Regions from separate parts of the Homo sapiens genome. Here region 1 is linked to region 2. The links come from fine-mapping of genetic effects on gene expression. A gene starts in region 2. The other region holds a variant in brackets. All regions are shown on one strand. Distances are between the middles of the regions. Region 1 has its middle 80 kb from the start of CCR1. Region 2 holds the start of CCR1 (C-C motif chemokine receptor 1).

The links.
Region 1: its variant is fine-mapped to the expression of CCR1 in whole blood (INTERVAL, PIP above 0.99).

Annotation. Positions count from the first base shown.
Region 1 is chr3:46,123,148-46,132,539 of GRCh38, forward strand. No RefSeq gene overlaps it. Among named protein-coding and RNA genes, the nearest start is that of CCR1, 80 kb to the right of the region's middle. The variant C/T (reference allele first, on the strand shown) is at 5,757.
Region 2 is chr3:46,203,864-46,211,863 of GRCh38, forward strand. It overlaps CCR1 (C-C motif chemokine receptor 1), which reads right to left and starts at 4,450. Exons shown (of 2, transcript NM_001295.3): 1 at 4,419-4,450; 2 at 1-461. The coding sequence starts at 450. It also overlaps a transcript of CCR3 not described here.

The DNA of each region.
Region 1 (9,392 bases), 80 kb before region 2:
TTGCGTGAGTAAATACTACTTAATAAACTAATATTATATATATAAATATATATATAATATATATAACCTATTAGTTCTGTCCCTCTAGAGAACCCTGACTAATACATATTGTTTGCAAATTTTCTCTAGATCTGTATGTAGCTTGATCTTGGGTTAAGGTTAATTTTTTCCCTATGGGTTCCTCCAGTACCATGTTGAAAAGACAATTCTTCCTCCATTGAATTGCTTTTACGCACCTGTAAAAGATAAGTTGGCTATATGAGGGGGCTTCAAAAAATTCATAGAAAAATGAAATTAAAAGATAAGAAATTTACTAACTAAAGAAAAATGGGTGCCCTTTAAAGATTTCTTAAGACTAAAAAACAAAAAGAAGTCAGAAGGAGTCAAATCAGGACCGTAAGGTGGATGCCCAGTGATTTCCCATCGAAACTCTTGCAAAATTGCCCACATTTGATGGGGGGAATGTGCAGGAGCAATCTTGTGGTGAAGGCCTCTCTGGTGAAGCTTTTCTGAGTATTTTTCTGCTAAAGCTTTTGTTAGAGTAGGTAGCTACCCAGGCATGAGCAGAGCAGGGGAAGGCTCCCCCACACCAGGAATGTCAGGTGACCATAATTGCCAGGGAAAAGCAGTTTCCCAATAGCTAAAACACCTGGAACTGGTGATCAGCCGCTTCCCATTAACATCTCAAAAATTGGGCAAGCATTAAGAGGCATAATTGTGGAGTATGACCTTTGGTAGGTATTCCACTGGAAAAGGGAAGAATGCCTCAGGTAAGCATGCATACAATTCTAGTAAACACACTGCATATGCTCGCCTCCAGGGTGTTAGGCCACCTTGCATGCCAGCGGGCCACCCTCAGGGAAGAATCATGGGAAAAGGGATGCAAGACCCCAGAGGTATGCCAGCATATAAAATCCCAAGTCAAAAGATCAAAGCCCACATTTAACCTCCAAAATGGCCACTTGGCCCTCTTCCAAGTGTACTTTACTTTCCTTTCATTTCTGCTCTACAGCTTTTTAATAAACGTTCACTCCTGCTCTAAAACTTGCCGCAGTCTCTTTTTTCTGCCTTATGCCCCTTAGTCAAATTCTTTCTTTTGAGAAGGCAAGAACTGAGGTTGCTGCAAACCCCTATGAATTCGCCACAAGTGACTTGGATAACTTCAACTGCTAATACTTTGGCTGACTTTCTCAAAAACACTTTCATAATAAGCAGATGTTATCACTCTTTGGCCCTCTAGAACGTCAGCAAGAAAAATGCCTTGAGCATCCCAAAAAGCTGTTGCCATGACCTTTGCTCTCCACTTTTGCTGTGACTGGACCACTTCCATCTCTTGGTAGCCATTGCTTTGACTGTACTTTGTCTTCAGTAATGTAGTGGTAAAGCCATGTTCCATCTCCTCTTACACAGTTCTTCAAAGAAATGCTTCAGGATCTTGATCCCCCTTGTTTAAAGCTTTGCTCTTGTCTGCAGCTAATCTGGCTGCAATGGTTTTGGCACCCATTGAGCGGAAAATTTGCTCAACTTTAATTTTTCAGTCAGAATTGTGCAAGCTTCTAGGAGGAGATGGTGACAGATTACAGGAAGGTGGCGGGGGGCAGTGAGTGGGGTTGGTTTGGGGATAAAATCCATGGTGAACAAAAGTTGTCTTGTTGTGCAGATATAACCTCTCAGGTAGCAGCTCTCGGGTAGCCTGAGGCAAAACCTCTCTAGGTGATGTGTTGACCTTTGATTTCTTTTCCAGAGAGAAAATCTTTCCTAGATCTGTTTTTAGGCAAATATGGGGACCTCAGAGAACCTCTGCTTGCATCCACTGTTTCCTGCTGTTTATCAATCAGCATACCAAAGTGTCATACTTTGGGGAATTGTTTCCTGAGCTGCAACAATTGTCATATTTGGGAATGCGTCACAGAATTAGAAATGATCAGACAGTTTTAAGAACTAAGACTGATTTTTATGGAGCCAATGTTTACAAAGTCCTATTGGGCAAACTGGTCTGGTACCTGATTTATAGGTTTCCAGTCTCACAGATGAGAAACAAAGGTCACTTCCTGGCCCAGGAAATTTTGGGAACCTCTAGAAGAGAGGAATTCATCCAAATCTCTAGGAACTGTAGGTGGACAGTTCTTGGCTTGGCTTCCTAGCCTTGAGAAAGTGCTTCCTCAGCCTCCCAAAGTGCTGGGATTATAGGCGTGAGCCCCTGCACCCAGCTTTTCCTGAGCCTTTTGTTTCTTTGCTGCAGCTTTCCATTTTTTTCTTCTTTTCCAGGGTGCTTGTAATTGCTCATTGAAGCATTTTTATGATAATTGCTTAAAATCATTGTCAGATAATTCTAATATCTCTTGGTGTGGCATCTATTGATTTCCATTCCCCCTTTTTTCATTTAGTTTGAGATCTTCCTGGTCCTTAGTAAGACGAATGATTTTCAATTAAATCTTAGAAATTTTGATAGCTATAAATGCTTGCATTGGAAGAAATGAGAGATCTCAAATTAATAACCTAACTTTATACCTTAAAGAACTAGATAAAGAAGATCAAACTAAGCACAAAGCTAGAAGAAAGGAGGAAATCATAAATGTTAGAGCAGAGATAAATAAAAAAGAGAATGGAAAAAAATAGAGAAAATTAATAAAACCAAGATTTGGTTTTTCAGAAAGATCAACGACAATCTTTGCTAGATTGGCAAAGATAAAAAAGAAAGAAGACTCTCAAATAACTAATATCAGAAATGAAAATGGAGACATTACTACTGATTTTAACAGAAATAAAAGAGATCATAAGAAAGTACTATGAACAATTATATGCCAACAAATTGTATAACCTAGATGACATGGACAAATTCCTAGGAACAGTTTCCATCAAACTGAATTGTGGAGAAATAGAAGATCTGAATAAACCTATAATGAGTAAGGAGATTAATTCAATAATCGAAAACCTCCTAACGAAGACAAGCCCCAGACAGTTGGCTTAACTGGTGAGTTCTAATGACATTTAAAGAATTAATAGCCATCCTTCTCAAACTCTTCCAAAAAGTTGAAGAGGAAGGAACAGTTCTTAACTCATATTTGTGAAGCCAGATAAACATATGAAAAGAAAACTACAGACTGATATCCTTTATGACTATTGATGCAAAACTCAACAAAACACAACAAAATTCAGCAGCAAATTAAAAGGGTTATACACCATGACCAAGAAGGATTTATCCTTGAATGTAAGGGTGGCTCAACACACAAAAATAAATCAAGGTAATACATGACATTAATAGAATGAGGAAAAAAAAATGAATGATCCTCTCAATTATTCAACATCTGACAAAATTCAACACCCTTTCATAATAAAAGACACTCAACAAAATAGGAATAGAAGGAAAATACCTTAGTATAATAAAGGTCATATGTGAAAGAAAACCCACAGCTTATATAATACTCAATGGTGAAAGAATGAAATCTTTTTCTCTAAGATCAGGAATGAGACAGGGGTGCCTGCTCTCACCACTTCTATTCAATATAACATTGGAAGTCTTAGCCAGAGCAACTGGAATGAAAAAGAAATAAAAGGCAACCAAATCAGAAAGGAAGATGTAAAATTATCTCTGTTCACAGATGACATGATCATATATGCAGAAAATCCTAAAGATTCCACCAAAAGCACCTGTTAGAACTAATACATAAATTCAGCAAAGTTGCAGGATACAAAACCAATACCCCAGAATTCGTTGAATTTCTATGCACTAACAATGAACAACCTGAGAAGGAAATTAAGAACACAGTTCCATCTACAATAGCATCAAAAAGGCTGAAATACTTAGAAATAAACTTAACCAAGGAGGTAAAAGACTTGTATATTGCAGATCACAAATATTGCTGAAAGAAATTAAAGAAGTCACAAATAAATTGAAAGACATCCTGTGTTTACAGATTGGAAGACTTAATATTGTTAACTATTAGTATTACAAAACAATCTACAGAGTCAATGCAATTTCTATCAAAATCCCAATGACTATTTTGTGGAAATAGAAAAGTTCATCCTAAAATTCATATGGACTCTCAAGGAAACCCAAATAGCCCAAATAGAAATAAAAACAAGGTTGGAAGTCTCACGCTTCCTAATTGCAAAACTTACTACAAAGATATAGTAATCAAAACAGAATGGTAATAGCATAAACACAGACATGTGGACAAATGCAATAGAATAGAGGGCCCACGATTAAACTCTCATAATTTTTGACAAGAGTGCCAAGGCCATTTGTTATAGACTAAATTATATTCCCTCAAAATTCATATGTTGAAATTCCAACCCCTGTTATCTTAGAATGTAACTATATTTGGAGAGAAAGTCTAAGAGTTGGTTAGGTTAAAATGAGGCTGTTAGGACTGAGTGTTAATCTAATGTGACTGGTGCCCTTATAAAAGAGAGGAACAGACACCTGGAGCATGTGTGTACAGAGGAATGACCAGGGGGAAAGGAAACAAGACATCAGCCATCTGCAAGCCAAGGAGAGAGGCCTCAGAGGAAACCAGGACCTTGATCCTTGATTTTCAGCCTGCAGAACTGTGAGGAAATACATTTCTGTTGTTTGAGTCACCAGCCTGTGGTATTTTGTTAGAACAGCTCTAGGCAACTAGTATACTGTTCAGTGGGGGGAAAGAATAGTCTTTTCAACAAATGGTCTTGGGAAAACTAGATATTATCCACATGCAGAGGAATAATGAAGTGGGGCCCCTGTGTTACACCATATACAAAAATTAACTCGCAGTGGATCAAAAACCTAAATGTAAGAGCTGATCTATAAAACTATTTGAAGAAAACAACCAGCCGGGCACGGTGGCTCACACCTGTAATCCCAGCACTTTGGGAGGCAGAGGCGGGAGGATCATGAGGTCAGGAGATTGAGACCATCCTGGATAACACGGTGAAACCCCGTCTCTACTAAAAAAAATACAAAAAGTTAGCTGGGGGTGGTGGCGTGTGCCTGTAGTCCCAGCTACTTGGGACGCTGTGGCAAGAGAATGGCATGAACCTAGGAGGCAGAGCTTGCAGTGAGGGGAGATCACACCACTGCACTCCAGCCTAGACAACAGAGTGAGACTCCATCTCAAAAACAAAAACAAAAACAAACAAACAAAAAACAACCAAATAACCTGATTCAAAATTGGGCAAAGGACTTAAATCGATATTTCTCCAAAGAAGAGATACAAATGACCAGTAAGCCCATGAAGAGATGTTCAACATTCCTAATCATTAGGGAAATGAAAATCAAAACCACAAGAAAATACCACTTCACACCCAATAGTATGGCTTTTAGCAAAAAAGAAATACACACACACACACACACACACACACGCACATACACACACCAGAAAATAAGTGTTAGAGAGTATGTGAAGAATCTGGAACCCTTGCGCACTGTTGGTGGGATTGTAAAATGGTGCAGAGGCTATGGAAAGCAGTATGACAGTTCCTCGAAAAATTAAAAATAGAATTTTCATGTGATCCAGCAATTCCAATTCCGGATATACACCCAAAAGATTTGAAAGGAAGGACTCAAACAGATATTTGTACTCCCAAGTTTATAGTGCATTATTTGCAATAGCCAAAAGGTGAAAACAACCCAAATATCTATAGACAGCTGAATGGATAAACGAAATGTGGTATATAGGTACAATGGAATATTATTCAGCCTTAAGGAAATTCTGACACTTACTTCAACATGGATGAACCTTGAAGACATTACACTAAGTGAAATAAGCCAGTCA[C/T]AAAAAGAGAAATACTGTATGTTTTCACTTACATAAGATAACAAGAATAGTCAAATTTACAGAAGCAGAAAGCAGAATAGGGGTTGCCAGGGGCTGGAGGGAGGGAGGAGTTAGTGCTTAATGGGTACAGAGTTTCAGTTTGGGAAGATGAAAAAGTTCTGGAGATGGAAGGTAGTGATGGTTGTGTGATATGAGAGTACTTAGTGCCTCTGAACTGTACCCTTAAAATGGTTTAAAATGGTACATTTGATTATATATATATATATATATATATATATTACCACATTAAAAAACCTGGAAATTTGGGGCATTATATATTATGAGACTTTGGAACTTTTTTAAACCTGCTGGCTTTGGAGGGGAAGGGAGCTGGCTTTGGAGGGGAAGGGAGGGTGCTGCCGGGTTTGTACAAGGTAGAAGTTCTGTTCATGGCCCAAAATGGCAGAGCCAGTACTTGACACCATGGCTTCTAATGATAGATCTAGCTCTCTCGGATACCGAGGGCCAGCTGACGTTAGACATCATGGATTTGTGTTTTCCCTACACCTGGATGAATTTCTCTAGCAGGTTGGGCACAAAACTAGAGAAATGGGATTGCGAGACAGGGTCAAGGTTGGGTTCTTCCAGGCAGGCATCTCAGAAGAGCATACCTGGAGTATGTTCAGGGAGTGTCCAGGGGTAATGAGGCCATACCCACCTCACGTGTGGTCAATGGAGTGTACTGGTAAGGACTATGTGACTTAATCAAGAATTAAGTGAAGACAGCAAGGGGATGATAATATCCAGGGGAAATGGTGGGTCGAAGTTTCTAGGGAGTGCTTGATGGGGTGGAAACACAGGTGGGGGTGATGGTAAGGAGGATGTGCAAGAATAGGCACTATAGGCAGTTGTGGTTAGAGAAGGAGATGCTAAAGATTTCTTGATAGGGCAGATCCTGGAAGTGACAAGATTTGTGGTGTGGGTAGCTGAAAGGTGGGGGAGGCAAAGGATTTGAGGTCAAGAAATGCAAGGGCATAAAGGTAAAATCTTTCCCAAGATTACACCAGTAGTCCATGGGAGAGGTGGGACTCAAACCAGACTCAGAATCCAGAGAGGAGCTGGAGAACACGGGGCATGACCAAGGGGGTGAGGAGTGGTGGGGATGATGAGTGAGAAGGCTGGCCCAGGCAGCTCTCATGATGCTCAAAAGAGATGGGTGTTTGCATGCACAGCTTAGAAGGGAACACAGGGTGAAAGAAGGATGCTGGCCTTACAGCAACAATGTTCACTTGCAGAGTTTTTTGGTACCTCTGTGCACTGTGCCTGGTGCTAGGGACATTGAAATAAAAGATATAGGTGCTGCCCACAGGAAACACACAGTCACTGGGAGAGGCGGGCACATAAGCCCATCTGCAAAACAGAATGATACTCTGATAACCGCTGTTGGACCAAGCAGTGAGGGAGTGGCCCTGGCTGGAGTGGTGAGGTCAGGCACAGGAGGGAGGTGATGCTTAGGCACTTTGTGCGAACTTCACTAGTTGGGCCTGATGGAGCAGACGCAAGAGTGGGGTGGAAGGATACAACTGAGAAAGAGTCTGGTGTATTCAGGAGCCTCTGCGTGGCTTGGCGTGGGGAGCACCAGGACCATATGTCAGGGGATGAGGGTAGGCAGGGCCCTCACTAGGTCGTGTCTGCAGTTTGGCCTGAGTGTCATAGGAGGGGAGTGACAGGGAACAATTTGCATTTTAGAAAACGTGAAAGGGCAGATGAAAAAAATGAGCACAATGACTGCAGTATAAAATGTATTACTAGGCCGGCACAAGTAAAAATGAACAGGTTCTTAGAGGAGGATTATGTTCTCATTCCTTTTCAGGAAGTTTCCTTTATCATGACATTGTTTTTACACCAAAATGTGATTACTGTAAAAAGGGAACTGTGGTTAGTGTGAAAAGGGAACAAGCATGGAGTTACCAGAATCACATTTTCCTGACTGGAAAGAAGTCACAAGAAAACAACAGAGAACACTCACTCCATGTTCAGCATGAAGGAGAACTGCATGATCCAGGGAGGTTTAGGGGACCAAGAAGGTGGATAGGCTCTAACTGGGGCAGGCAGCAGGTGCGGCTGCAGAAAAGCGAAGGACTCCGAGCCCCGTGGTGCCTGCCTAAGAGTGAGCCAAACTCAGAAAGCCTGAGGCCCTTCTAGATGAAAGGTGACTGATGCAAAGCTTGATCCCAGATTGGATCTGGGTTATGGGAAGACAGCTCACCAGGGACTATTTAAGGGCAATTGGCGAAATGTAGACATGGAAGATGGACCAGACAACAGCATGAGATGAATGTTAAATTTCCTGATTTTGATCCTTGTTCTGTGGCTATGTAAGAGAATGTCCTTACTTTTAGAAAATACACATGGGGCATTTTTGGGAAGTTTTTAAGGGCATGGTGTCTGTAACTTACTCTCAAGCAGTTCAGGAAAATAATATATAAATTAGATATGAAGAGAAGTGAGGGGAGGAGAATAACACAAATGGGGGCAAAATATTAACATTGGTGCATCTGGATAAGATGATCTTTGGACAGAGTTCTTTGAACTATTCTTGAAACATCTGCATAAAATTTGAAGTTATATCAAATTTGAAACTTACAAAGAAAAGGCTTAGGGTTGGATTCTGCTTGGGCTGGAACATAAACTCAAGGTGAGAATATAGCCAACTTTGTGAATAGAGCAACTGAACCAATACTGGGTTTTTTGTTTTCTTTAAAAATCATTCTCTGTGGAAGATCAACTTAAATCTATTCTGCCAATATTGATAATTACTGACTAGCATGTGGTTTTATTTGCACTATCATTTTAATGGTGTTTACTTTATATATTAATTTTTGGCCTAATTAATTGGAGGCTTCCAGAAGGACGATCCCCTGGAACAATTTTCCTTGTGTTTCCCCCTTTTTGTTCTGCAAGCGTATAGCGTATGGCAGCAAGGAGGATCTCATTGCTCTCAGGGAGGGTGCAGGACACAAGGGCAGTGTGTGGCCTGATGAAAGCTGCTTGTCCTGGGAGCCCTCAGCACACAGAACTTTAGTAGAAGGGAAACCCTTTCACATCAGGAGCCAGAAGCCTTGTTAGGGGAGGGACTGCAGATATTGAGTCGAGCAAATCTGGCAGGGTGGCTTACGGTGAGAGGAAAGGACTAGTAGGCCAAGGGCAAAGGTAAATTCACCAGGGCAAAGGCAGTCTGAGCTAAATGCAAGAGCCTGGGCTTTGCTGTGTGTATGCAGGGAGATTATGGAATAGCACAGCCAAGACCAGCAGCCTCCTGGCCCAGCGACTATGGCATGGGGCCACGCCCTGGGAACGATGGAGCTCCAGGCTTGGAGCATGTGTGAGCTGAAGGACCTCCAGGTGGAGGCTGGTGGGTGGCACCTCGACAGTAGTCTGAAGCGAGCCAGAGCAGCGAGGGCCTTGCCTCATCAGCAAGCAATTGTCCCTGGGGCTGCACCAGTCAAGGCTTCAACACTGACAATGTGATGTCTCTAGAACAGAGTAGTGGTGACCAGAATAGCCCCTTCCATTCTCTCCTAGCTTATGTTTGGAAGAAGGACAAAAGCTTTTCAAGCCCTCAGTGTTCTTCTGTTATTTGAAAAGGAGGCTTCA
Region 2 (8,000 bases):
ACCAAAAGTGACGGTCCGTGCCCGCAAGGCAAACACGGCGTGGACGATGGCCAGGTACCTGTCAATCGTCAGCAGGATGATGAAAAAGATCTCGCTGTACAAGCCTGTGTAATAAAACCCAGAGAGGATCTTACACATGGCATCACCAAAAACCCAGTCATCCTTCAACTTGTAGTCGATCCAGAAGGGAAGCGTGAACAGGAAGAGCAGGTCAGAAATGGCCAGGTTCAGGAGGTAGATGCTGGTCATGTTTTTTAGCCTCTTGTATTGCACAAGGACCAGGACCACCAGGATGTTTCCAACCAGGCCAATGACAAATACCAAGGAGTACAGAGGGGGCAGCAGTTGGGCCCCAAAGGCCCTCTCGTTCACCTTCTGGCACGGAGTTGCATCCCCATAGTCAAACTCTGTGGTCGTGTCATAGTCCTCTGTGGTGTTTGGAGTTTCCATCCCGGCTTCTCCTACAGGTTAAAAAAAAAAAAAAGATTTGTCTTTACTCTGCTACTAAAGGCAGTGGGCACTGGACAGTAAAGACAAGGGAGAGGTAACATTTTTTCAGCCACTCCATAAATGTTTATTGAGTGCCTTCTGTGTACCATGCCCTGGGGACAAAATGGAGTGTTAGAGAGACCCAGATCCTCTCTGCCTTCTAGGAATCTTAGTCTAACAGGGAGTGGAAGCAATAAGTAAATGAGTGCACAAATCATTAATTCAATCATTTCAGCAAAGAGTTTTGTAAGGGATAAGTTCAATGGGTGGAAAGCCAGAGGGAGACCTTACCATACTATTCATAACCAACACTTCCTAAGCACCCCCATGGCCTAGGCACTGGACTTAGGGTTAAAGAGCCCTGGAGGGGTCCCATTGTTGTTCTTATTTAAGAGGTGATGAAACAGAGGTTCAGAGTGGTTAGGAAACATGTTCAAGGACACACCTCTTGTGAGAACAGACCTGGAGCTCCAACCCAGCTGTGCATCATTCTCATGCCCGGCCCTGACACCACTACGCTTTCCTGCTGCTGTCCCCGAGCAGTAGCTTTGCACTGTGGAGCCCACAGGAGGACTCTGAGAAGGAAAATGGTCCTGGCTCAGAGAAAGATACAAACAGATATTCATGGCTTTTGGTCTAAGAAGATTCTCAGCCGAGAGTGACCTAGTACCCTTGGGGCACTTGGAAATGTGTGGGCATTTGTTGTTGTTGTCACCAAAACTGGGGGATGCTACCGTCATTTGGTAGGCAGGGCCAAGGATGTCCTACAGTGCAGAGATCATTCTACCCCAAACACCAGTGGTGTTGCCATAGTGAAATCCTAGTAGGTCAACCCCATTATTTTGGAGATGAGGACACTGAGGGCACCAGAGTGGGCTGAGCCTGACCCACATTGCACAGTCCTTAGGTGGCACAGGTAGATCTAAGGTCACTTTGCAGACCTCCTGAAGGAGAGGAAAGTGCAGGCAGAGAAGGGGGAGGTAACCTGGTCAGAAAAAGAGAAAACTGGGCATCAGGGGAGGAAGAGTTCAGAATGGTCTGGAGCTATGAGGTGATGTTACACAGTGACTAGCTGAATTCTGCTGAGATAAGCTCTTAGATATTTTTACCCACGGATGCCTTAAAGCAAACAAAAATGAAACAAAAAAGAATCACTCTGTAGGTTGCCTTTGTAGGACTTCTCCCAGTCCCTGCTTTTTTGGCACTTGAATCCTTTCCAGTTGCTTATTAAAGATGCCTCCCCAAATGGAGCATTGGCTTTGGTGTAACCTACGAGCTTTGTGACTTTGGATAAATTATTTTACCTCTCTGAGCTTCATTCCTCATCTGTAATGTGGGAAAGCAACTCTTATCTTGCAAGGCTACTGTGAGGTAATGTATGAGAAAAGTGCTACCATCACCCTCCCACCACCACCACCTGGCAACAGCCAGGCCCCTTATTGAGGGCCTGGCAAGAGCCAGGCCAGGGCACTTTTCTTGGGGACCTTCCCTGAGAGAACTCCTTCACTGCAGGAGCCCTTCCCTGAGGCCTGACACCACCAGCACATCCCAGGCACCAATGTCCAGGATGTCCCTGGCTGGCTGGTATACCCTGTCTCCCACCCCCCTGCCAAATTTCTTTGTAGTTAATCTAGAAAGTGATTTTTCTTGATAACGGTGGACAATGATGGTCCCTTCCATGTGAATGACATTTGAAATTGTCAATCTATTGCCGCCAATCTAAATTGATTTGACCCAAATGCCAATCAGTAAAGTAGGTGGCACCTACTTTATAATTTCTATCTTAAACCTGGGTCTCTGGTGTTCTTCCTTCTACTCTCCTTAAGGAATGTTTCCTGCTTACACAATTCACATTTTTTTCAATAGCCATTGTAAAGGAAATTAAGGCACATGGAGGGTATAGGGCACCCTGGCTGGAAAGGGAGATACTCTATTAGGGTGAGAAGTGAGGAGCTTTAATTTTTTATCAAACCCATCCCCTGGCCCACTCCTCCATCTCCAGAGAGATCCAATCAGCCCTCTTTCTGGAGAGAGTCAGGCTAACGGTCACTAACAAAGCTGTGTTGGCAGTTTCTAATTTCTGCAGCCACAGCCATTGCTGATGAGGGCAGACAGTTCGGTTTGATAGTCAGCACTTTTCGGTGGGCTGGCAGGTTAACAGTGGAAGTATGCAAATAGCTTGGAAAGCACAAAGAGCAGCTAGTGCAAGCCTGATCCCATGAGTCCAGTTTCTGGGAAGGTTTGGCAAAGGCAAAGGCAAGTTGAGTCAACATTGTCAGGTGGCATTTTAAACCGAGTCACCTCCATACACCCCCTACCTCCAACCCATTTGTTATTTCCCCAACTTGTTAAGCCCCAGGCAACCACTCCAAGGCATGCTGTTCCTAAAGGGAGGTGATCTGGGGTGGGGCCCGAGAAGAGAAACCAAAGGACCATGTTGTCATCTAATCTGCCAGCCCTGCTGTAGTCTACTGCAGAAGTCTGCCTCAAGGCCACTGCACAGTGGTCAGCTATAGCCCTGGATCCTGGACCCTCCACTGCTAGTGTCCTCCAGCCTGGGAGTTGGTGAAGTCTCTGAGCAGAGATAGAGCAGTCTGTGATGGTGAAAGACACCCAGGCCTATGGTGCGCTGGCTGGCTTATACTGGTTTATAAATGCCAATTGCGTGCATCTCTTCCCCACTCCACATTCAGCATGTTGGTAGCTTGAAACTGACCACAGTGGGGGCATTTATACCATGAAAATCAACAAATGTTATAAAGCAGGGATCTTTTCTTCAGAAGAGTCAGTTGTTGAACATTTACCAGCACATCACTGCCCAGGCCCCACATTCTGAACAGTCCAGCACTGTCCCACTGCTCGGTGCGGGAACTAAAGGATCAGTGAGTGGCACATAGCCTGGTGCCAGGTTGTGCAAACTTTTGGGAGTTTCCATCTCTTCTTTGAAATCTGGGACCCACCAAGACCACCTATGAAGTAGATACCTATACGGAGCCACCATGCCCCTCTATCTTCAGAACAAAATCCTGACCTGTGTCTTTGTTAGTAGAGCAGAACAGATGCCCCCCAAGATCACCTGGCCAGCTCCTTGCCTTTGGGTGAGTGAAAGCCTACCTCTTCCAAAGATAGCAGTGCCAATTTTGAGGATCCTTGGTTCTAGTCTTCTTAAGAGATAGGTTCAGTATCAAATCATCCTTGCATCTGCCAAGATTTTTCTAGCTAATATTTCCCTCTTGCTATAATTTCTTCATACACCATGTTTGGTTTTCCTTTACATGGGGGAATTTGGCAAGCAATTTTTTTTTTTTTTTCAGACAGACTCTTGCTCTGTCGCCAGGCTGGAGTGTAGTGGTGCAATCTCAGCTCACTGCAACCTCCACCTCCCGGATTCGAGTGATTCTCCTGCCTCAGCCTCTTGAGTAGCTGGGACTACAGGCATGCGCCACCATGCCCGGCTAATTTTTATTTTTAGTAGAGACAGGGTTTCACCATATGGCCAGGATTGTCTCCATCTCTTGACCTCATGATCCACCTGCCTCGGTCTCCCAAAGTGCTGGGATTACAGCCGTGAGCCACTGCGCCCCGCCAAGTAATTTCTTATTGAATAGGTTTCCACAGAAAACACCTTTTGTCCCTTAGTACTGACTGACTTTCTTAATCAGTAACCAAAAGCCAATCCTTCAAGTAAGCTTCCTTTTTAGCAAAAAAGCCTATATTTCATCTGAGCACCCAGCTTTATAAATCCACCATTCTCAGTATTGCTACAGTATTAATTGCCTTGGAGATGCATCCATGGGCTACTTAGACATTTGCCCAGCCTACTCAAAGAATTCCCCCTACCTTTGAGGAGCCCCTAGCTGCATGCATGTCTTTGAACAACACTGCCCTCCACAGTAACAGATAAGACAGAAAAGACAAGTGACACTTACTCTGGTTCCAAGGGACTTTGTCCGTGAAGTCTTTGTTTCTGGGGCTTTCTGGGTTTTTATGAATTCAAGTTTCAAGATCCTGACCAAGTAGGAAGTACTCAGCTTCCTGTGTGATGATGGAGAATTGGCTCCAGTTTCACAGTCTTTCAAAATGACAAGAAAGGGACAAAGTTCTTCTTTTTGTGTGGTTTGGTGCTCATGAATGGCCACAACGCCCACCAGTGGCCACTTCCTGGAAGCCAAGTTAACTGCGAGGATTTTCTCTGCTCACTCTGAGCCTCTTGAGTCTTGGCCCTGGGAGCTCAGCCTTAAGGGAATTGGGGGCAGGTGAAGCTGAGTTGGGTGAGGTGGGTGGCAGTGAGATGTTCCCAGAATGTTTGGAGCAATTGAAGTGTGGGATGTGTGTATGTGGGATGGGGGCAGGGCATAGAGCTCTTGTGGTCAGCGGCAGACTTCTTTTTTTTCTTCTTCTTAAAGATTGTGAATGGAAGGATTTAAACTGGAACCCTGAGTCCTGTTCCTCAAAACTAACTGACATGGGTGCTCACAGAGGCAGCAGCTTCTCTTTGGCACCCTATGCCCCTCGGCTTCTGGGAGCTCATTGTCCCTCTGCTCTCTGCTCCCCAAGTCCCTCCCCACCAAACCTCAGAGAGTGGCTTTGCCCCAGGAACCTCCAGCATGAAGGGAATATAGGTCTGTTGGTTACATTTTGACCTTCCCTTTCTGATGCCCCATTCCTGTTTTACGTGATGGTCAAACATGGGCCAAGTTCAAATCCCAGCTCTCCACCTGTGACATGGGCAGATCACTCACCTTTCTAAGTCTTGGTTCCTACTCTGCTAAATGGGAGTATTGAATGCTTACCTCAGAGGAGAAGCACGAAGTCAACTTGTACATGAAAAATGTCAGAGTGCCTGGCACAGTGAAAAATGTCTGACAAATGATGAGTACTGTGACTCTCCTCACAACTGCCAACACCTACTCTGCCTCTGCCCTTGTGTCTTCTATAAAGTGGGGACACCCCTAACCTTCCTCACGGCATTGCTACAAAGCACTGTTTCAGAAATCATCAGTGTGAATGTGCTTTGAAAAGATCACTTGTCTCTTCATGGTTCAGTTTTCTTATCTGTAAAATGAAGAATTCAGACAAGATGGCCTAAGCTTGACATCTGATCATCACTCAGCTTCACCCCAAAGAAATAAATGGGGGTCTGCATGTGCCTGGCTATTTGCAGTACTTTGCTGGTGGATCAGTTTCCAAAGAGAACAGAGGCTTGTGAGGCCTGCCTTTTCCTTGATCCTGTCTAAAGTAAGGGACATGGTCAGTACCTCATCCTTGACCAGGCTTCCAGCTCTGCTCTAGGTTTCATTCCACAGAGGGGATGTACCAGGCAAATCTGCTTGTTCATTGAACAAATATTTATTCAGTACTCACAATGTGCCGGACATTGTGTTAGGTGCTTGGGATATAGTGGTGAAGAAAGAGGCTGGATCCATTCTTTGAGAGCTTATAGCTTAGGAAGGATCACAAACAATTAACCAAGTTACCACAATGAGGAACAGCTTTTGTAGTGGCCTGGGAAATACCCTGGGCTAAGGAAGGGTGCATCGAGGGTGGGAAGGGGTGAGGAAGTCCTTTAGAGCAGTGGTTCTCAAAGTGAGGTCCCTGGACCAGCAGCATTCACATTCCCTGGGACATTGCTAGCCATGCAAGTTCTGGGGTTACATGCCAGATATACTGACTCAGAAATCCTGGGGATGCGGCCAAGCAATCCAGGTTTTGACAAAGACTGGCATGATTCTGATGCATGCTTAAATTTGGGGGGCATGGATCTAGATTTTCTCAATGCTTTTGGCTCAGAGTCCCATGTGATCTTTCTTCAGAAGAGTTAGGCTGGACCAGCTATGAGCTAGGAAGCCTTCTTTCTCTCTTTAGCTCAAGGCCTAAACAAGAGGCTGCTCAGTTGCCTGCTCTGTCTCCCCTCCCACACCCACACTCAGGTCTCCTATGGCCTTGCAAACCCCTTAGTGCACACACCCCTCTCACCACAGCAGATGTGTACAATGGGGGCAGCACAGAGAGACAAGAGAGAAACCAGCAAAGAGGGATGACCTTGCTCCATTCATTTCTCTTAAAAGCCCTTTGACTCCTCTCCTTAAAAGCTGTAGTGTTCTCTCAAGGTTGCCGTATTGTCCTTGATCCACATCAATGTTCCTCTTCCTTGGAGAGAAGGGGGAGATGTGGGCAGCTTCCTTTGCCCCAGAGAGGTTGCAGTGGAAGCCCAGCACTAAGCCAAACCCTGTCCTGAGACAGCCTTCCACCCCAGCCTTGGCACCAATGTTCAGGGAAGAGATGCAGGGGACCCTGCCAGTGGTGGATGTGGATGACTCTGTCTTTAACACCTGCAGAGCTCATGGACCCTGGCCGTCATCAGGTTCAACCTCATATTCAACTGCTGGGCCTTGTCTTCTGGCCACACACTCTCTCCAAATCAGCGATGGTGGGGAACTGAGGAGCCAGAGGCCATTGTGGAAGAACTCCAAGAAAACAATCTCCAGGTTATCACATCTAAAGCCTGAGCAAGATTTGAGGCTGGGAAGAGGTGGATCCCAGAATTGGAAGAAGGTAGGTGAAACCAGTGTTGCCTCCGCTATGTTAGAGTCACATGGAAGCTTGAAGGACAATTGACTCCTAGGCCCACCCCCAGATATTCTGATGTACTTGGTCTAGGGTGCAGCCTGGGCATTGGAATTTTAATATGTTAAAAAATCTGAGAACTAGAATCCCTGGCCTAAAGCAATGGTTCTCGAATTTGAATATCCATCAGAATCTACAGAGGGCTTGTTAAAACAGATTTCTGGACTTATCTCCAGAGATTAAGTTCAGTAGGTCTGGAATGGGGCCTGAGAATTTACTTTTTTTTTTTTTTTTTTTTAGACAAGGTCTTGCTCTGTCGCCCAGGCTGGGGTGCAGTAGCATGATCATGGCTCACTGCAGCCTCAACCTTCTGGGCTCAAGTGATCCTCCCACTTCAGTCTCCTAAGTAGCTGGAACCACAGGTGCATGGCACCACACCTGGCTAATTTGAAAAAATATGTATATATATATATATATATTTTTTGTAGAAATGGGTGTGTTATCATGTTGCCTAGGTTGGTCTCAAACTCATGGGCTCTAGTGACCCTCTTGCCCCAGCCTCCCAAAGTGCTGGGATTACAGGTGTGACCTGTGATCCCACCATGCCTGACCTAGATTTGCATTTCTAATAAGTTTCGAGAACCACTGGTCTACAGGAATTCTCTGAGATGTAATTTGTTTATATTTGTAAGTACACAAAATATAAGGTGAAGAGCTAAGTTTGCCTACCCCTGGCGCCTTATTTTCCCCATTTCTCTTCCCAAAAGGAACAACAGTATCAGATTCTCATGTCACTTTGAACATAGAACACACGCACACACACACTTTTTTTTACACTGGTGAGTGAATACAATACACGTTGTCTTCCATTGCTTTTGTCACTGAACCTCATACCCAGAAGATTCTTCTCCACCAGCAAGCACCTGGGAATAAGCATGTAGGCA